2 separate regions of the Homo sapiens genome follow, and region 2 is linked to region 1. The links come from fine-mapping of genetic effects on gene expression. A gene starts in region 1. The other region holds a variant in brackets. All regions are shown on one strand. Distances are from middle to middle.

Region 1 (11,171 bases):
AGACTGACCTTCCTTGAGCCAGAGGGAATGTTCCCAGCAGATGGTCTTTAGACTCAAAGACAACTTCCCTAAGTCCCCAGCCTGCCAGCTAAACCTGCACTGTGGGAACTTGCCAGCCCCACAATGGCATGAGCCAAGTCCTCAAACTATACTTCTCATCCTCTCTCGAATGTTGAATTTTGTTATGAAAAATACCTGGGTCACCTAGGATAGGATGCTAACATCTGTCCTTTCTAGACGGTGGTTGTAGTGGGTTGAATAGTGTCCCCCCGCAAAAAAAATACATCCACCCATAACCTGTGAATGTGATGATATTTGGAGTCTTTGCAGACATAATTAAGTTGGGGATTGGAGATGAGATCATCTTGGATCAGAGTGGACCCTAAATCCAATGACAAGTGCTTACCATCACAGACTCCAGTTTTGCTTCGAAAATTCTGAAACTATTCTAAAAAAATATGTTAATGTATTTGAGAGAAAATGAAGACACAACATAAAGGTGTGATGACTCTATCTGACCTGCACAGCAGCTCTTAAGCAGCCCTTGTCCCTCTTGGGTAGAATAAATTTATACAGTAGAATGTATACATTCTAGTTTATACATTAGAATATGGTCTTAGACCTTCCCGCCAGTCCTCTCACCCTCTCTCCCTCACTTTAGCAATGCTGGAAGCCAGGGGCTCCAGACGGCCCAGCTACAAGATGGAAGTGGCAAGGATCCCGCTCACCCGAGGAGAGTTGGCCTGGAGAGCTGCCTGACCCAGCCTTTAATGAGCAAGAGGTAAACTTTTCTTACGTCACTGAGACCTTGGGGTTTGTTTCCACAGCATGACCTGTTTTTCCTGACTCATACAAGCCCCTGGAAGCATCTGACTCACTAATCCATTGACCTTCTCTAACATCAGCATTTACGGATCCTGCCATCAAAATTCTTCATTCATTATGAGGGCTCAGTCAGTTCTCCTTAGGATTATTAAACCATTAGTAAAAGTGCATTAAAATCAGCTTATAATCTCTTCCAGTGGGATTTCACAAATATCACTCCATAGCCAAATGGTTTACCGTTCTCTTCTGACTCAGAAAAGCATATTGTAATTAGAACACTTTTTGCACAATAATAAAAACAAAACAGCTTTCACAGGTTGCGCTGGATGTCAAACGTGGGTAAACCACTCAATTTTGAGCTCAGCTTGGCACAGGTTTATTTATTTACAGGCACTTCAAAAAGAAGGGGGTAGGCCACATCTACATAGCCCAGGGTGTGGAGCGTGGATGTGTCTGTCTGTTTGTTATGACTAAGTCTTGCTCAGTCCTAATTCTTCCTGGTCAAAAATTGTTATTTTTAAAAGACTCCTTGAACACAAAACCCTTCAGATGTGATGGAGATGTGGCCAAGGGAAGCAGGGAAGTGTGGTGATGTTGTGATGTGAATGCAGGCTCTGAGCCCAGATCCCAAATCCTGACACCCACCAGCAGCTGTGCATGTTTGAACTTATGAACCCATTTCCGCAGGTGGAAAATGGGTGAGTAAGCTTACCCTCGGCCTTGTCAGGAACATGAGAAGGCCTCAGTAGGGAGCCTGGCTAGTCCTGCCCCCAGGCTTAGCGGCGGCTCTTCCTGAAGTCCTGCTGACCGGAAGGAACGTCACAAACATCTCCTGCCCACAGGTGAAGGAGGCCTGGGGAAGATGGAGGAGGCGGCCCATCTCTAGGCACCTTCCACGGAACACTGGCCCCCACACGCCAACCGTGCAACAGCCCCGTCCTGGCAGCTGATCCCTTAGCTGTCCGGGAATTCCAAGCACATCTTTGGAAGAGCTAGTTGGGTCCTTTCTGGGGGCATGGAAAGGAGGACCAAGGTCTTATCTGACTGAGGTGAGGAGCAGACACCACGGGGAGTAGGGAAAGAGAAAACTGCAGCCCAGAAGGCGCTTCCTTTACAGAATCCCGAGGCCAACTCAGGCAAATGTCAAGAGCAGGAAAAGCCACCAACTTCAATTCAATTAAATGCATAGGACCGACTTTCAAGAAGGAATAATCTGGGTATTGACAAGCTTGAATTCAAGTTAATGCAAGAGAGAGAGGTCTTGAAGGACATTCATTAAACTGTTCCTGGTTATCCCTGGACGGCGGCAGTTGGGGTGATGTTCACGTTTATTTTACAAAAGCAATTAAGCTACTTTGAATAAAGGAGGAAAAGGAAACATGAAAGAAGTACCCAAGTTCTGAGTCAGAGATCTGACTTCAAATCCCAATTCCACCACCACCAGCTGTGACCATGAGTGGTCCCAGCATTAATGAGGGCCTCAGTTTCTGCATCTGCGGAACGGGAATAACAGTATCTACCTCCTAGGATTATCAAAGCTTAAAGTGGATAATTTAGGATATGCCAAACATCTGGAATCGGGCTCAAAAAGTGGTAAAGAATTTTGAAGATATTTTTCTTTAACACTCCAAAACAACTTTCAGGGAAAGTCATTTTTCATGGAAGGTGCTGACTTTATTGGAGACTGACCATCTCCTCATCACAGTCTACTCCAGAAAAATCAGAGGGAGGTGGGGAATGTTGTACCCAACTTTCTAATGTCTCTAAGACGTGGGTGGCAAGGGTAGGCTGTTAGCACTCCAGAATAACGTTGCTATGCACCCATTCAGGGCTTAGCCTCACAGCCAAACTGAGATCCAGACCCCAGAGAAGCCGCGTGAATCAACAGCAACTCTGCAGCCCCCGACCCCAGCCCTGGCGTCCCACTCACTGAGGCTCTGGCCAGGTGGCGGTGACTCAAACCTTCTCCATTTTAACTTGGCATCTCAGAGCTTCTGGACAGAGTCCACAAATACATGAGACAAAAATAGGCCAGCATACCCTCCCTTGCCAGGCCCTCATTGTTGAGGGATGAGATGAGGGCTGGGCAAGCGGTTACACAGCCGAAACCAGGGCCCTAGAACCCAGCTCTGCCAGCATGGGCGCCCCACAGCTCTGCCCACAGCGTCTGCTCTTTATTCTTGGTTTCTCCTCTCCTTCTCTTCCACTTCCCATTCTTTGTGATCCATCTTTTTCCAAAAGTTGACAGGTTGGCTGGAGACAATTCCCCCTGCCAGCTTTTCTGTCTTTTCCACCTTTAGTTTAAGTTGTCCATGAGGGCTGGTGATCCATTTTCGGTCCTCCATACCTTCCTGGGCAATCCCTCTGGGCCCTCACACCTCCACGCCCTCCACCCTCCCAGCTCCTTCCTCCCGGGGCCTCGAGCTTTTCCCTTTTTTCATCCTCTGTGCACTGTTTCACCCCGACATGTATGTTATTGTTTGACTGTGGCATCAGCCATTCTTGGAGACTTTTCCCAGGGCTTGCAATTTTGTAGCAGAGAGAGATTTTCTATCTAAAGCAAAATGCTGGTCTTGTTTAAATAAATAATAAGATAAAAGAATCAGGCACTGTAGGGGTATTTGGCCCACAGCCATCCTGTCTCAGCAGGGTCCTTTTCATTGAGGGAAGCATTTTTCATATCCATAATTTGCCCCTTTCTCTAACCCAGGGTGCACGCTGCCGTGGCCCTTGGTGACAATGTCCCCTGTGGCCTTCCTCCAAAGCTTGCTCCAGCAAGCTCTGACATGGTGTCCTCCCTCCCCTTCTGGGCTGCGGCTTCTCCAACCTCCCCCAGCTCCTGCAGACAGAGGAGAAACAGCAAGTCACAAGATAAGACAAAGACCCTCTAGGCCAGGCCACTCCTCGCTGCCACTCTGGGACAGCAAGGCAAAACGCAGACGGCCCCAGCTCTGGACGCCTCTCCTCCTCTGGACCCTAACCCTAACCCTAAGCCACTGGAACACTCACGGGAGAAAGCTGGACCTGCTTTGAGGCTCACCTCCCTGCATGCACATCCATCCGGCTTCTCTCAAGAAGCAACCTGGTGTCTGAGAGCCGTTGAGTCTTCATCCCAGCTCTGGTATTTCTCTCATGTGGCCACATAACCTTGAATGTCTGACCTTCAATTTCTTCATCTGTACAGTGGTGAAGATGATCCCCACTTTGCTAGGTTGTTGTGAGCATTACCTAAAAGAAAATAGGTGCTATGGCGGCATGTTTGTTGAGCTAGGAGGACTCGGAACAAAATTAGCTTCTGCACCGGCTGTGCTGGAGCCAGGCAGGCCGCTCCGGTGTGGCCCTGTTTTTCCTGGTTTGTGTCCCAGGAACCTGCCAACCCTCATTGTCCCGGATTTTCCCTTTGACTCCAAAAGCCGTGTCTTTCTTATCAAGCCTCTTTATTTTTGTTATTATCCCGTCAACATACTCCCCTCTGATTCGCCCCCACTAATGACTCGCGCCCTTTCCAAAGTCCCAGCACACCGCGCTTATAATCTCTTTCAGCTGTCCTTAAAAAGGTTCTATTTGTCCCCTCCGCCCCGCTCAGGGGCGCCCGGACTCTGGGGCCCGGCCTTCGCGGGCTCCCGGGTTCCTCCCATCGCTTCCCTCACAGTCCTGGCCGCAGGGCAGCGGGTTTCGCACGGGAGGGAAGGTTTGGATGGCTAACGCCCAGGGTTGGTCTTCCCTGTGTCTTTTATGGGAACACGTTCCTGCCTGCGCCCCACGGGACAGAGCCGTTTTCCCGCCCCGCCACGCCGCGCCCGCAGGCCCCGCTGCCCGCAGCCTCTTCCCGACGCCCCAGGCCGTGCGCCCCCCCGAACCGGGCCCACCGCGTGCTGTGCGGGGCTTCCGCGCCTGCGCACGAACGCTTCTGCGAGCTTTCTCGGAAGCAGCTGGGGGGCGGGGAATCTGCTGAGGAACGGCGCTTTATAAATCAAAAGATAATAATAACAGAGCTTACGGTGAGCACCGGAGGCTGGAAACGGGGTGGCATCCGCTCGGGGCGGGGCGGCGTCGCCAGCGAATGACAACACTGCCCCCTGGTGGCCGATGCGGCCAGGCCCGAGAGAGCGCAGGCCGGGTGCGAGCCAGGCTTCCTCACCACGCGGCTTCCCCACTCATCCCATAGAAACCGTAACTGAGCAAATGACGGTAAGTCCCCAGGAAGCGTTAAGGCCAGGAAGCAGCACAGGAGAAAAACCCGAATCCCATTTTTTTAGAGTAGGGATTTATTTGTTGTCCCCAGATAGCAAGCTGAATTTCTGAATAGTTCAGAGCTCACAAAAGAAGCCAAGACCTTTCAGGGCATTTTATAATGTTGCTTTTTATAAACAAAATATTGAAACCACTACTATCACTGTCACTGGGGGATTACTGTTGAGCAGAAATGCTTGTGAAACTCCCAAAAGAAAGGGTCGTTTGTGCTTCTTTGGCATTAAGTAAAAATGTCCTGTTTGGTGTGTACACGTTTTCATATTTAATTATTCACACTGTGCACTTTATATATAAACTCAGCACTTAGGTTCTCTGTGAGCCAGAAACCTGGCTTCTGTGCTCATCCATAGACCCAGTGAGAGTGTAGAAGCCAAGCCTGGTGGAGCCTGTGTCTACCAGGGCATTGCAGTAAAGCTTCTACCACTCACTGTAAATACCTCCCATCGAGGCTGAGGAAAAGTTGTAGCATACTTGGAAATTGGGGTGGAGTATTGTCATCCAAAAAGGCATATTTCTTTTGGTGTTTTCCATACCCGGCTGTGTCATTGTGAAGCCTCAGCTCTCCCAATCTCCCCATAAACTGGAGGAATCCTAGTGTTTCCTGTCCTGCCACATTATGTGTGGGGAAGATTTTTTTTTTTTTTTTTGAGACAGAGTTTCACTCTTGTTACCCAGGCTGGAGTGCAATGGCGCGACCTTGGCTCACTGCAACCTCTGCTTCCTGGGTTCAAGCGATTCTTCTGCCTCAGCCTCTGGAGTACGGAGCTGGGATTACAGGCACCCGCCACCATGCCCGACTATTTTTTGTATTTTTTAGTAGAGACCGGGTTTCACCATGTTGGCCAGGCTGGTCTCAAACTCCTGACCTCAGGTGATCCACCCGCCTCGGCCTCCCAAAATGCAGAAAGAGTCTTAAGATGGATTTTTAGTAAGTACTTCAAGCGGCTTTATGAAAGCTACCGTCAGTAAAGTAGAAAACTATATATGCACATATTTAGATATGGAGCTCCCACGGAGGAAGTGCTCTGACAGGTCAAATCTGCCCCCAAAATAAGTTGATAGAACTTCAAGGAAGCATGAAAGCGGCCTTGCTGTGCATTTCATTTTATGGAGCGTAAGTGCCTAATAAATGAATGTGTGGGTCTGAAGAAAGTGATATTTTCTAATGAAGTTATAAGTGTCGCAGTCCGGAAAAGTAGAACCCAAACAAACACAAAAAGGAGCGTGCAAGGCCCACGCCGCGCTGCACAGACTCTCCCCACCTGGTGAATGCTGACCTGGGGCCAGGCCACAGGCAGGGAGAGAAAGGTCGCCGGCATGAACACCAGGTGACCCCGTGAAGTGTGTGCTTCTGAGAGCAGGGGTCCCCCAAGTGAAGTGGGCGATGGCCTCCACCACCTTGAGAGCTCGTCATCCACTGTTTTTAACACTGCCTTCTGTTTTGCTTTAGTTCTGCTAAGATACACCTAACATAAAATGGACCCTCTTAACCTTTTTTAAGTGTGCAGTTCAATGGCATTAAGTACATTCACATTACTATGCAACCATCACCGTCATCCATCTCCGGGACTTTCTCCTCTTCCTAGATGGAAACTCTGGCCCCACTACACACCAACTCCCCATCTTCTCTCCCCCGTTCCAGTTGCTGTCTTTGTGAATTTGACCACTAGGAACCTCACACAACGTTTATCCTTTTTATCACAGGATTACTACACTTAGCAGGATGTCCCCCAGGCTCATGCACGTTGTAGCGTGTCAGGGTTTCCCTCCCTGTTAAGGTGAGTCGCGTTCCATCATACGCACCCATCACGTCTTGCTTATCCATTGATCTGTCCATGGATCCATGGACGCTTGGGTTGTTTCCACCTTCTGCCTAATGTGAATAACACTTCTGTGAACACGGGTGTACACGTAACTCCTTGAGACCCTGCTTTCGATTCCTTTGGATATATACCCGGAAGAGGATTGCTGGATAACGTGGTGATTCCGTTTAATTTTTGGAGGAGCCACTGTACAGATTTCCGCGCGGCCGCACAGCTTTTCCGTCCCACCCGCGGTTCCGAAGGGCCCACTTTCTCCACGTCCTCCCCAACGTTGTTGTTTCTGGATTTTTGACAGAGGCCATCCTGATGAGTACGAGGTGGTAGAGCTGCCTGCTTTTTGATTAATGTGACGATCACACCCTCTGCCTGGGAGTTTTACAGACTGGTGATGACTTTTTGTGGCATCTCAGGAAAGAACATAACTTCGTGGACGTCCTTAGTCAGAATCTACTCAGTGTATCTACTCAGTATAGGCTCACATGAGCCCTCACCTTCCCAGGGAGTCACAACCTCTACTATACTTCTTCTTTCTGCTCTGCCCCCCACAAACGGCCCTGCCAGCCCTCACCACCTAGAGGGAGATTGGGAGCCGGTAGAGGAAAGACACCCTGAATCCCCGAGGTCAAGCAAAGCCCTGGGGAGGCGCCGTGGGATCCCTGCCTCGGGCCTGCCTAGACAGTATGTGAATGAGTATCCCAGAGATTCTCCCCGCTGTGACCTCGAGGGCCAGCCTGCCTGTGTGGCCGTGAGCTGCTTTCTTCCCAGAGGAACTTGCTTGCGGCAGCAGGACTCCACAGCCTCAGGGGCAGCTTGGGTATGTGTGTGTTCCTGTGCCACGGTTATATGTCCGTTTGGGTGTGTGTGTTTCTGTGTGTGTGTGTGTGTGTGTGTGTGTGTGTGTGCGCGTGCGGGGGTGGGGGGTGTTTGGCAGGACCAATGTGTCTTGTATACTCAAGGGCGGATTCTTTCAAGCCAGCCTTCTTTCTGATGCTCTGCTCCCTGCGTTTCCACTCGTGCTGTGTGGCTGGTTAATATTTGTTTATCGTGTGCTTCCCATTAAAATGTCTTTAGGCCAGCCGGGTGTGGTGGCTCACGCCTGTAATCCCAGCACTTTGGGAGGTTGAGGTGGGCGGATCACGAGGTCAGGAGATCAAGACCATCCTGGCCAACATGGTGAAACCCCGTCTCTATTGAAAATACAAAAATTAGCTGGGCATGATGGTGCGTGCTTGTAATCCCAGCTACTCGGGAGGCTGAGGCAAGAGAATCACTTGAACTCAGGAGACAGAGGTTGCCGTGAGCCAAGATTGCGCCACTGCACCCCAGCCTGGTGACAGAGTGAGTCTCCATCTAAAAAAAAAAAAATTTCTTTAGGCCGTGGCAAAGTGGGGAGCTGCGTCCGTTGGGTGAAGGTCCAAATCACCTCCCCATCCCAAGGGGTCACTTCTCTAGAGGGAATATGACACACGCAAGAACCAAAACCCCAGAGGAGCTGCCTGTCCAGCTTCAAGAAAGGTTCAGACAGATGTCCAAGGTGGTGGATGGAACTCCTTTTCCCCTTTTCCTCTCCTTGCAAAATCTAGCCACATCATGGCCCAACGATGGAGAAGAAGCTGAGAACTTGGCAAGGATCTCTTTTCCTCCAACTGTGGCCTTTCTGGCTAGGCCGCCGGTTGGGCACTCATTCCCAGCTCCACACGGCAGTGGCCTTGCTGCGTTCTGCCTTGCTCTTTTTCTGTCTACACTGCCCTCACCCTTTTTCTGTCTTCCATGTTCCTGCTGGGCCTCAATTTTTCTTGATCTGGCTCAGAGTCTTCAACCAGCCACATTTCCCAGTTCATCCGGGATCTTTTTTTCCTTCTCCAAACCTCTCTCTGCATGGTTGGGCAGGTGGGAGGATCCTGGAGCTCTGGGTTTCCATACCTGTCGCCCACACAGACATTCCCTTGGTCTCCAGGGTTCAAGCAGACGGCGGCATGACCCTATAGGATGAGCGGTAGCCAAGCGTGGCTGGCCTTTGCCTTCTAAGAAAGGTGGAGTTTCCTGGCATCTACAGTGCCTTCGCCACTCTTGAGGGATATCCAGCCCCTCTGCTCCCGGGTGGGACTGCCTCCCAGCACTAAGTCTTCTGACTGCCACGGATTTCACTGAGCCAAGTGGACTGAGGGTTGGCCTGCTGCAGCTGAGGGTGTGTGTGCTGTCACCAGCATAGGGGTGGGAGTGGCTGGCACATCACAGGAACGTCTTGGGTCTTCTGGCAGGCATCCCTGAAGGTGGCTTGGACCCCAGTGTGGCCCTCTTGGGGTCCTCAGGTGTGCTTGGCCTTTCCTTCACTTTATTGGTGAGGGGGTCGTCAGTCTTGGAATGGCTCTATACCTCCTCGGAGACACACACTCACTCCACCTGCTAGAGAGCCTGGTCACAGCGCCTGCTTCCGCTGCCTGAGGGTGAGTTCCTGAGGATCAGCACAGCAGGAGCCTTCTGTGGCAGTGCCTCAGTGTCGTGCTGCTGTGGCCTGTTTTTTCCAGGGTGTCGCCGGGATGGTCCTGGGATCTTAGGAGTCGCAGAGGGCCGACCAGGATGAACAAACGTCAATCAGAGCCCCAGTGATGCACTGCGGGATCCCTGTCTCAGTCCTGCCTAGGTGATGTGTGGATGAGTCTCCCCTGAGATCGTCCCACTGTGACTTCGAGGGCTGGCCTGCCTGTATGGCCATGGGCTGCTCTCTTCCCAGAGGGGCTTCCTGGCAGCCGCAGAACCCCGCAGCCTCAGGGGCAGCCTGGGTGTGTGTGTGTTTTTATACCACGGTTGTATGTCCGTCTCTGTGTGTGTGTATATGTCTGTGTGCATGTGTGTGTGTTTGTGTGTTTGTGTGTGGGGGGTTGTGTGTTTGTCATGTCAGGCAGGACCAATGTCGCTTGTATACGCGAGGGCAGATTCTTGAAGGTCACGCTTCTTCCTGGTGCACAGCTTTCTGCGTTTCTGCTTCAGCTGTGTGGCTGGTTGGCATTTGTTGATCTTGCATGTCCTGTTTGGGTTTGTTTAGGCCTCGGCAAAGTGGGGAGCTGCCTCGGTCCAGCAGGGGTCCAGATCACCTCCTCATTTAGAGGGACCATGTCTCTAGAGAGATGACATGCCAAAAACGGAAACCTCACAGGAGCTTTTTGTCCACCTGCAAGCGAGGTGCAGACACGTTTGAGATGGTGGATGGACTTTTTTTTTTCTCTTTTCTCTCTTTCCAAAATCTGGACACACCATGGCCCAGTGATGGAGAAGAAGTCGAGGACCTGTCAAGGATCTTCTTTCTTAGGAGTGGCGGAGGGCTGACCAGTCTCAATAAAGCACAGGGGGAGCCCCTGTGACCCAGCGTCTGGGTGGCAGCCTGTGGACAATCTGCAGCTCATCTGGATCACGCAGCTCAGCTGAACTCACAGCCCGAGGTCCAGCACTGCCCAGGGGCTGGCAGCCGTCCTGCTTGGGTGGGGCTCTGCAGGATGGGCAACCACACGACGGTCTCCCTGGGAGCCTGGGAAAAGGGAGGATTCACAGATTACAAGGGGACAAGACCCTGTTGGACAAAAATGACCAAGTGGGAAGCTGCCTAGCTCTGACCAGGTCTGGGAACACACTGGGATTGGAAGTCATCTAAATATAGCCTGTTTATAGACTGCGATCTGACTTTCTCAGGCACTGTTTGTATGAGAGCTGGTAACTATAGCACAATTTTTCTAAACTGGTCATTTTCAACACTGACTTTTTATTTGCATTTGAAATGATTTTATTATTGGCACCAGAGAACTAGAACCTCGGACTATTGCTGTGGCTGAAAGCTACGCACAGCTTTCCATGAAATCTTAATTTATCAGCCTGTTTGGGTGTTTGAACATTTAAAGCAAGCAAGATAAAAGAATCTGAAGGGATTGCTTCTTTTCACATCTTGTCATTCATCCGGCTTTGTTTTTAACTGCTCAGTTCAGTTCACTGAAAGTCTGTATTAATGCTTCACCCATCCACAGAGGTGTAAATATGAATGACAGTGGGAGGAAGATAATCCCATAGTCTTGGGACAGTGGGGCATCCAAATACCTGCACGACAAAGGAGTAAAGAGACTTAGTAGGAAATCCAAGTTACCCTTTTCCCCCTCACTGCAGGCATTCCCCAGGTTTCAGGAATCAACGCCTGCATTTGCTTTCATCCTTTCTCTTAGCCAGTGGTCCCCTCAACCACGGCTATCTCTGAGAATCCCCTGGGCAGATTTTCAAAGTTCC
Region 2 (11,171 bases), 28 kb before region 1:
TAGCAGCAGAGAGTTATGAAAAAGAAATATGTTGAAAATGTTAAACAGAACTGCAAAATGTTCACAATAGCTTTAAAAATGTGAACTGTCTACAAATTAAACTTATTTTAAGAGGAATATAGAAGGTATTTATTTAGAAAAAAGCCTTAAAAACTTTATTTTATGTTATTTTATGAGACTGAGTCTCACTTTGTCACCCAGGCTGGAGTGCAGCGGCGCGATCTCGGCTCACTGCAACCTCCACCTCCCAGGTTCAAGTGATTCTCCTGCCTCAGCCTCCTGAGTAGCTGGGATTACAGGCATCCACCACTGTGCCCGGGCAATTGTTGTATTTTTAGTAGAGACAGGGTTTCACCATGTTGGTCAGGCTGGTCTCGAACTCCTGACCTCAGGTGATCTGCCCACCTTGGCCTCCCAAAGTGCTGAGATTACAGACGTGAGCCACTGTGCCTGGCCAAGAACTTTATTAAGATTAAAAAAAAAAAAAGGCAATAAAATGGAAAGGCAGATCATGTTGCTGAGTGAGAAGATATAGTACATCCATGTAAATTATCCTCAAATGGAACGTAAAGTGTTAATGCAATCTCCATCACAACCCCAATATTTTCTTTAACTTTAAAAAGTGATTACAAATTTAAACTTGAGGAATAATTTGGGAGGAATAACTAAGAAAAATTAATAACAATACCTGAAAATGATGATGAGTGTATTTTTATTATTACATATTAATGTGTATTTTGCTACATAGTTAAAACAGGTTTCTGTTAATGTAAAAAGAGACAGAGCAGATTTAGAAAGATCATTCAAAAATCCAGAAACAGGCACAAGTGCATATCATTATTTAATATAAGATAACTTTGGCGCTTCGTATAAACAAGGAAAGGAAAGATTATTAAATGTACCAGGAAACCTACTTACCTATCTGGAAAAAATTAAGCTTTTTACCTTACTCCAAATATCAAAATAAATTCCAGATGGATTAAAGAGATAAAGTGTTAAAAATGAGACCTTACAAGTAGTAGAAGAAATTTAGCTAAATATTTATATAATTTGGGTGTTTGAACGGCCCTTTCTAAAAACAACATTGAAGTCGGGGATTGTAAACTAAATTACCAGTATCTCTGACTGCATGTGATAAATTCCATAAATCTCCTGAGCAAAATGAAATGTCACTTCACAAAGCAGAAAAATACCTGCCATATGTATTCCAGATACAGAACCAGCGTCCTTAAATATAAAGAGCTATTGCAAGCAGTATGTAAAAGACAGATTCTTTGGCCAACAATTCACTTCCTGAAGTTCATCCCAAGGAAATAAGCCCGGAGGTGGTCACCACAGAGCTTGCCCTTTTAAACTCCCTGTAGAGTTGATCGGAGAATCCACCTTTCCCAGGAGAGAGCTTCAGCAAGACCAGAGTGAGGGGGAGTCAGGGGTGCTGATGATGGTCTACTGGAAAGGATCTTTTGGGGGCAACATTGTACACCTCCGGTTGCTGGAGAAAAGGGGACACTGGGGAACTAAAAGAAGGCATCATGTAAATGGGGTGTCATGCTTGGAGGGATGTCAGAATCTAAGGACAAAGACTCCCACTTTGGGGGCCCAATAAAAAATGGCAACACTCAGCCAGAGTGGCATAAAAGGCTGCAAAGAATCCTTGAAACAACCTTATGACTTATGAGTAGTTAGTGTCACCTCTTTTGTTTTTGTTTTTATTTATTTGTTTATTTTTGAGACGGAGTCTCACTCTGTTGCCCAGGCTAGAGTGCAGTGGCATGATCTCGGCTCACTGCAACCTGTGCCTCCTGGCTTCCAGTGATTCTCCCACATCAGCCTGGCGCTAAGCCAGGCCCTGGGAATGCAGCAGTGAACCAGGGAACATAGACCCGTCCGCTAGGAGCTCTCAGATGTTCACCAATGAGCACCACAATAATGGTATAATTACGCCTGTGGCACCTGCCGTGAAGGGAATTCCGGGGAGCCACATGGGCATGTGGCAGGGGTCCCAAGTGCATTCAGTTAGCTCCCACCAGGGTGATACATTTATTCAAGGACACAGATTGGGCTGGACACGGTGGCTCACGCCTGTAATCCCAGCACTTTGGGAGGCAGAGGCAGGCGGATCACGAGGTCAGGAGATGGAGACCATCCTGGCTAACACCGTGAAACCCCGTCTCTACTAAAAATACAAAAAATTAGCCGGGCGTGGTGGGGGGCGCCTGTAGTCCCAGCTACTCTGGAGGCTGAGGCAGGAGAATGGTGTGAACCCAGGAGGCGGAGCTTGCAGTGAGCCGAGATCGCACCACTGCGCTCCAGCCTGGGCAACAGAGCGAGACTCTGTCTCAAAAAAAAAAAAAAAAAAATTACACAGATTGCCCTCATATCACCTGCTGTTTTATGTAGCTGGCCCAATTGGGACCAATAATTCTGATTTCTCCATCTTGTCTCTCTAGAAGGAAGTCCCTTCCCATAGCCAGCCACTGCCATGCATGTGGAGTGACGGCAGAGGCCCATGTGGCCTGTGTGCACTGTGATGTTCTCTGCATCAACATGGACAGAACGTGTGGGAAAAGTAAGAAAAAGAATGCAATGTACACCATAATGCCCTTTATGTAAATTAAAGCACATACACATACAAAACAGCCCAATATGTTATGTAAAAAAATCCATGATTATTTGGTTATTTGAGGACTTGTATAAAACACCTTACACTGGGTCTGGGGGTAGAAGCAGGGGGATAGCCAGGAAATCAGGGGTAAAAGGGAAAACAATACAGCAGGAGAGGAGCCTTGAACAGATTATACTGATAAATGCAATTGATTAAATCTGTCTGTGAGGTCCCCAAAGTAAACAGAAGCAAGAAATCATTTGGCAAAGCAAATAGCCTCTTGTACTGTACAGAGGGTGATCTTTAAATGCTGGCCCTAAGCTTAAGGCAGAGAAGTTTCATGATGGGAAACCAGGTCAGGAAAGATAGAAGCAGAATGGAGGAGAAAAGAAAGAAAGAAAGAGAAGAAGAAAGAAAGAAGGAAGGAAGGAAGGAGGGAGGGAAGGAGAGGCAAAGAGAAAGAGAGAGACACAAAGAGAAGAGAGAAGAAAGGAAGAAAGAAGAAAGAAAGAAAGGAAGAAAGAAAGAAAGAAAGAAAGAAAGAAAGAAAGAAAGAAAGAAAGAAAGAAAGAAAAGAAAAGAAGAAAATACACAGAGAGGCAGAGAAACAGTAGGAAAGAGGGAAGGAGGAAGGAAGGAAGGAGGGAAGGAATGAAGGAAGGGAGGGAGGGAGGGAAGGAGGGAAGGGAAGGGAAGGGAAGGAAGGAAGGGAAGGAAGGAAGATGACCAACCTAAGTGAACTCTGGGAACAACGGTGAATGTTTGTGTTTATATAAACATGTTACTTTAAGATGGTTGACTCCTTACAGACAAAGGCCATATTTTCATCACTTCCTATAAAACCTCTCTACAATACCCAACAAAGTGAGAGGTCCTTGGTGTTCCCAAAGCATTTAAGAGATAACAACAGTAATGTCCATGTGAGATCCTCGCGCTGGTGTGTGGTTTCTGAAGTGCATCCTGCAATGTGAAATGGTAGCTGCTATTCGGTGTTGATAACCTCAGTTCACTGTGGATCCCATCCGACAACGCGTGAAGTCAAGAAAAGCCAACTGTGACCCCACTGAGGGGGAAGCATCTAGTCTCTGCTTCCTGAACAGACTGTTCCAAAAACGGGGCTGTTGTTTCAGTTACTTACAGTAATAAAACCACCGCGACCCCATATCCATCTTTCCACATTCCCCACCTCCCATCCTACCCAAGGTCATGAATATCAAACTTGGAAAGGAAAAGAATGAAGGACGTCTCCCCCAGCAATTAAAATTAAGTCCTTTTTCTTGCCTCCAACTAAAATCTTGGACGTGATGGCAGTTGCATTTAGCGGGATCCCAAATGCTGCTTTTATATGCCAGCATTCCATTCGGGGGGCTGATTTGTAGGTTTAAAAATATGCAATGTATGAAAGAGAGGCTCATTTATTTATTTCCTCCCTTGACTGACCTTGGGCCTTGATTTATCTCAAAACCAAGAGAATTTTCCTCTTGGTAAAGGAGGACTAATTCTTTCAGTGAGTCCTTGATAGTTTCTGCCATCAAAAACAAACCATAAGCTGAATGTACAGAAATGCCCTGCATTTAAGAAAGATGACATGGGGAGTAGTAAAAGCAGGAGGAAGAGAAGTGTGAGAAGAAAAAGAAGCAGGGAAAATCAGGGGGAAAGTGATGTTGAACAAATCATGCACATTTCAAGATTTTTAAAAAAGCAATGCGTTTGGGGATGGATAGCTGTCACCCTTGCCACCTTGGAGGAAAGTTTTGCTGGCTAACTGGCTATTGTCAAGCAGGCCGGGCTGGTGGCCTCGGCGGGCTGGCTGACCTTCCCCTGACTCCAAGAGGAAAGAAATAGTGAGGCTCTGTGTCCTGCGAGTCGGGCCTTCCTGTGACCTGAGTGCAACGTCTCAGCCCCTCTCCGACAACCCTCCAGCAAAGCTTGCTGGAGCTCTTGGTTTATTTTTTCAGGTGAGTGAACGCCGTATCAAATACTGGTTTCTCAGTTGCTTTTAATTAGGCTTCTGGGTTCCACTCTTTCATCTCGCCTGAAATCTGCATCACTTTTCTCCAGCTATTTCAGGTTCTAAAGCCACGGGTTTGCTTTCATTCAGCTAATTGAAGGCACACAGGAAAGGAGAAGGGGGATAATCCCAATCATTGGACATTTTTTAGGGCTGTGATAAACCACACATTTTTTAGCAACAGAAAACCACTTTCAAAACGTTAACTCTGCGGCCTCTGCTCAGGGGCTGGAGGGCCTACCCCTGAGGCTTCAAGGTTCATGTCATGTGGGATTCTCTGAGACTCCTCGATGCAGGTAGAGAGCAGGAGGGCAGGTGAGATGCCGTGATGTGACGGAACAGGCCCCATCACTGTCCCTTTCTGGTGTCGAGCTACTGG[G/A]AACATCGCTGTTGAACTGTGTATCTGCAAAGCTCTGGGGTGGAGGCCCAGCCACACACAACATCGGAGAACAGAGCTGATGCTGATGTCCCCTGAAGTGTCAGCCAGCAGCCAGGTGCTTGCTTAATCCCAGAAAGGGCAGTATATATTTTTCAGTAAAATTTTATTAAATCCTAATAGCAGATCTTTTTTTGTGGAGCAAAAAACTCTTGAAAACTATATTCATGAGGTATGTATAATTTGTTGGTTTTACCAAGGCTTTTTAGTAAACAAGCTTTAGATCTTGCCAGAGTATTCAAAATAGGTTTATGTAGAGCAAATATTTAAATTTATCTGTTATTCTATTTTTATAATTAATGAATAGGATTATAGGCATTTAATAAAACTTCTACAAAATAGAGCAGGGTGGGGGGGTGAATCCTACTTATTTGCTACCAAAAGAATCAAAATAACATTTATATTTATATCTCAATATATGGTTCTTCAAGTCATTTCAGGAGATGAAACAGTATGTGTTACCAACGGCTTTTAATTATAAAAACAAAGTGTTTAAATGGATCCAACACAGTCAGTTGGCAATACATCTAAATTCCATGTTATAGTGGCCTTTGTAAGGCAACAAATGGGGAAAGTACTTGTTAATTCATACAACGTCAAAGAATACCTGATACCTAAATAGCTCCCACAGTCAATTGAAAAAAGACCAACTATTGGGAAAATGACACTTTCCAGACAAGATCACAGAAGTTTAGATAGGTGAGAAGATACTCAGCCTCACTCATGATAATTAAAATGCAAATTAAACTATACTGAGATTTCATTTTCCAACTCCCAGGTTGTTTAAAAAAAAAAAACAAACCTAACAGGTTAATATGCTGGTGGCAATGGAGTAGAGGAAAGACATTTATTAAAAGCTGAAGGGCCCAGCACTTTGGGAGGCCAAGGCGGGCTCATGATGAGGTCAAGAGATCGAGACTATCCTATCTAACATGGTGAAATCCCACCTCTACTAAAAATACAAAAATTAGCTGAGCGTGGTGGTGCACACCTGTAGTCCCAGCTACTTGGGAAGCTGAGACAGGAGAATCGCTTGAACCCGGGAGGTGGAGGTTGCAGTGAGCCGAGATCATGCCACTGCACTCCAGCCTGGCAACAGAATGAAACTCCATCTCAAAAAAAAAAAAAAAAAAAAAAAGCTGATGGGAACATATATTGGTTTCAATTTCTATGGGAATTTGGCAATACCTACTAAAATTATAAATGCAAATGCCCTTTGACCCAAACTTCTTTTTCCAAAAATTTATTCGACAAATACATTCACCTAGAGGAAAAGTTCCTCTATGTCCCCACTTTCCATACTGTGCTCTTTGGAAGGAAGTCATTATCTGCAGCCCACATTTATGGGGTGGGGAGTTAATACTCCCCATCCTTGAGGGCAGAGTATCTACAGAAATTATTTGAAATTTTCTGCACAGAACATTTGTCTCTTTTCTTCAATTCATTTATTTTTTCAATCATTTGTTGATATCCGTATGAGTTCGTGGTTATTTATTTTATACTTTGAGTTATCATCCAAAGCTACTTTATTTACTTAGCTGAGTTTTTGATTAAACGGAATGATTGTTTTGGCATCCAGTAAAAATTGGCTTAGAACCCAGAGCTCATCACACAGCTCTGTGACCTAGTAGTCTCTTTGTATGTGCTCATGGAGTACCCATGTCTCTAGTCGTTTATTGGTTTGTCAAGGGTGTACCATGTGCCCTTTACTGTGCTAGGGGTACAGCAGTGAATGGAAGAGACTGCCTGCCTGCCTGCCCATGGGAATTATCAACCTAATGTCTGACTGATTTACTGTATATGTAGCATGGCACTAGAAAATCTGGGGCAACAGCAGGGGCAATATTATTCCTTTGGAATGATAGTAGTCATCTGGGCAGGCTAGAGGGACACCCAGACTCACACAAGACTAGAGAGAAAATAGGCGTAGAATAAATATAAGCCAAAACACCAACACCTGTCTGGTGTGCTGAAGGATGAGGTGAATCAAAGACAGATTTCTTGAGATGGCATGGAATAGACGCTCTTATAAAAGTTTTGTTAAAAGGAACTAGGCAATCATTGGAAGGATGGGGTCAGATGTAGATTTTCCTATGCAGCATTTAAAAAAATAGAACAGACAGACTATCCATAAAACGCAGGAAGAGGAGGAGGCCATAGGAGACTGAGGCTGTAGCTGAGAGGTCACCCATAGAGCAGACACTTCCAGCCACAGGAGGGGCAGAGGGTTTAGTTTTGGAGAGAGGATGAATGTGGAGAAAAGTAAAACACTCAACATTCAATGTAAAAGGGAATATGTATTGTTAGGCTCTCTGAGAGGCGAAATAGACCATGAATTCTTAACAGCTTCTTGTGTGTTGGAAAGACCTATGAAAAGTTTCATTAAGTTTTGGGGAAAAGCAGGTAGGGTAACTCCATAAATCTAATGTCGAGCTGCTGTGGTGTTTCTTTGAATGGTGAAAGATACATTTTTTCCCTTTAGTTTGCCAAATTTTACTGCCCACACTCTTACCATTGCTGCCGGGAGATCTGATATGTTGAACTCTTAATATGATGAATACATGTCTGAGGATTGAAAGAAAAGCAGTGGCATTAAAAATGTCAGAATAACAGCAGTGTAGTTTCAGTGTTCTCCATGAGCCGTCACTCCTAACAATGGGTTCTTGCTTGTCAAACCTCATATGTTGCTTTGTAGAAGCAAATACACTGACTGGGATCTGCCTTGAGAAAAGAAAACAAAAAACAAGGTTGAACGTTGGGCGTTTTCGTTTTCAGTCTGAGCTTTGAAGGTAAATTTCGTCCTTGATTGTTTTGTTATTTTCTTTGGGCTCAAACTCTTGGGCTCCATCTTTCTTTGGCCAAGTCCAGGTTTCTTGGGTTCTTTCCATTTTCTCCAGGATTATCCACACATGTGCTTCCTTTCCCACTGTTTCTACTAAACAGATACTGGACGTAGAATTACAAAGTTACATAGTCTTCTTTAAGACTTTAATTTTTTAAAGCAGTTTTAGGGCCATGGCAAAATAGAGAGGAAGGTGACGAGATTTCCAATATACCCTCTGCACAGCCTCCCAGTGATCAACACCCTCACCAGAGTGGCATACATGTCACAGTCAATGAACCCACCCATATTCACACATCATCACCACCCAGAGTCCATCGTTCACATTAGGTTCACTCTTGGTATTTGGACCAATGTATAATGATATCATCCACTATTACGGTATCATACAGAGTAGTCGCACTGCTCTAAAAATCCTCTGTGCTCCACCTATTCATCCCTCCCTCCCCCTAACTCCTGGCAACCACTGATATTTTTACTGTCTTCATAGTTTTGCCTTTTCCAGAATGACACATAGTTAGAGTCACAGTATGGAGCCTTCTCAGATTGGCTTCTTTTAACTAGCAGCATGTACTTAAGGCTCCTCTATGTCTTTTCATGGCTTATTAGCTCATTTCTCTTTAGTGTGAATAATATTCCATTGTCTGGATGTACCACAGTTTATTTATCCATTCACCCACTAAAGAACATCTTGGTTGATTCCAAGTTTGAGCAATTATGAATAAAGCTGCCATAAATATCTGTGTGCAGGTTTTTGTGTGGACATAAGTTTTTAACTCCTTTGGGTAAATACCAAGTAGCATGATTACTGGATTATATAATAAGGGTATGTTAGTTTTGTAAGAAACTGCCAAACTGTCTCCTAATGTGGTCGTACTGTTTTGCGTTCCCACCAGCAATGAATGAGGGTTCCTGTTGCTCCACATTCTCACCATTTGATGTTGGCCATTCTAACGGCTGTGTGCTGGTATTTCATAGTTTTAATTTGCATTTCCCTGATGACTGTGATGTGGGGCATCTTTCCATACAGTTATTTGCCATCTGTATACCTTCTTTGGTGAGGGATCTGCTAGGTCTCTTGGCTCATTTTCTAATTGAGTTGTTTTCTTATTGTTGAGTTTTAAGAGTCTTTGTCTATTTTGGATACCAGTCCTTTCTCAGATGTGTCTTTTGCAAGTATGTTCTCACAGTCTGTGGCATGTCTTCTCATTCCCTTGATAACTTTTTCACTTACAGCTTTGCAAATGTTAGTAAATGACCATAATAGGGCTCTGGAGCAACACAAGCAATGTCCTCTCATGAGGCTCCAGGTGGCAGTGATTGCTCTGAATCCCAGCATTGCTGCTGCAGCCTGGCCAGCAAGTGATTCATCACTGTCAATGTTTTCATATCTTAACTTCCTTCTGAGGAGTGTCTCAGAGTCTGGTAAATGGTACCAAGAAATCTCCACCCTCAGTCCAGCTGGCTTCGTGTGGACCAGCTGAGTGGTGTGGGGGACTAGGAAACTGGATTTCTACCCAGTTGTCATTCTGTGTCCAACGTATTGGTAGGAAATAGGCATCAACTCAAGAAACCAAATCCCCCTAAACTAACATCAATTAGTTTGAGATCAGCTCTCTCCCCTTCTCCAAGTGTTATAGGTACATTTACAGTTTTAGTTCTGGATTTTGTAAACTGCATTCTCCTGATCATAGCGGACAAGTTCCTGTGCCACTTACTGATATGTGATGACAATCATGATTAAGAAGAATAATAGTGACAATTTACATTTCTATGCACATTAGACATACAAAGTGGCTTCACATGTTTCCTCATCTAGTGATTGTGGGACCTTCTTTACAAGCTTTGTCTTTGTAATGATCGTAGTTAACATTTATGGAGCCCTCATTGTGTTCCAAATTCTGTTCCATGACTTTTATTTGGACTAATTCATTTAACCCTTATAATAACCTCTGGCAGGGACTGTTACTATTCCCATTTTACAGATGAGAAGACCAAAGCATGACACCTTGCCCAGAGGTTGTTTGTTTGTTTGTTTTGAGACAGGGTCTTACTCTGTCGCCCAGGCTGGAGTGCAGTGGCGTGAGCAGGGCTCACAGCTCACAGCAGCCTTGGAGTCTTGGGCTCAAGCAATCTTCCCGACTCAGCCTCCCAAGTAGCTAGGAATACAGGTATGTACCATCACACCCAGCCAATTTTTAAATTTTTTGTACAGACAAGGTCTCTCTATGTTGCCCAGGCTGGCCTTGAACTCCTGGCCTCAAGCAATCCTCCCACTTCAGCCTCCTAAAGTGCTGGGATTACAGGCGTGAGCCACTGTGCCTAGCCCTGCCCAGAGCTGAACATACCCAAGGCTGTCCGGTTTCAGTGCCTACACCCATATCTGCTCTGCTACCCTGCTTGGGTTCAAATCTCGACTTGCCACTTACTCTCTGCATGAGCTTGGACTACTTATCTAACCTTTTTTATCTCAGCCCCTTCATTTAAAAATAAGGATAATAATAATATCAGTTACATAGGGATTTGATTGAATGGCATACTTTTTGTGAAGTTTCTGCTATGTGCTAAGTAGTGTTAGGTATTATTTTCATCCTGGACCATGTATTCTTCTGATAAACATTGAGCACACGTTCTCTGCCCGGTGGTAGGCTTACACTGAGGGTCCCAGGGTATATGAGTCTCCTACTGATGCTATAACAAATTGCCTGAAGCTTGGTGGCTTAAAACAACACAAGTCTGATTTATAATCCTTTGGGTATATACCCAGTAATGGGATTGCTGGGTCAAATCTTATTTCTAGTTCTAGATCCTTGAGAAATCTCCACACTAGACTGGATGAAGAAAATGTGGCACATATACACCATGGAATCCTATGCAGCCATAAAAAGGGTGAGTTTATGTCCTTTGCAGAGACATGGATGAAGCTGGAAACCATCATTCTCAGCAAACTAACACAGGAACAGAAAACCAAACACCGCATGTTCTCTCATAAGTGGGAGTTGAACAATGAGAACACATGGACACAGGGAGGGGAACATCACACACTGGGGCCTGTCGGGAGATGGGGGGCTAGGGGAAGGATAGCATTAGGAGAAATACCTAATGTAGATGATGGGTTGATGGGTGCAGCAAACCACCATGGCATATGTATAACTATGTACCAAACCTGCAAGTTCTGCACATGTACCCCAGAACTTAAAGTATAATAAAAATACATATATATATGTACATAAAGAAAAAAAAACATGAGTCTGTTGTGTGAGAGTGGAGGTCAGAG

What was found. PIP is the estimated chance that this variant, and not a neighbour inherited with it, causes the effect.
Region 2: its variant is fine-mapped to the expression of LINC01600 in amygdala (GTEx, PIP 0.97).

The regions. Positions count from the first base shown.
Region 1 is chr6:2,629,740-2,640,910 of GRCh38, forward strand. It overlaps LINC01600 (long intergenic non-protein coding RNA 1600), which reads right to left and starts at 4,864. Exons shown (of 3, transcript NR_131168.1): 1 at 4,826-4,864; 2 at 3,866-4,053. It overlaps LINC02521 (long intergenic non-protein coding RNA 2521), which reads left to right and starts at 4,761. Exons shown (of 3, transcript NR_149119.1): 1 at 4,761-5,016; 2 at 7,198-7,716; 3 at 9,949-10,820. RefSeq lists an enhancer at 9,678-10,193.
Region 2 is chr6:2,602,038-2,613,208 of GRCh38, forward strand. No RefSeq gene overlaps it. Among named protein-coding and RNA genes, the nearest start is that of LINC02521, 27 kb to the right of the region's middle. The variant G/A (reference allele first, on the strand shown) is at 4,996.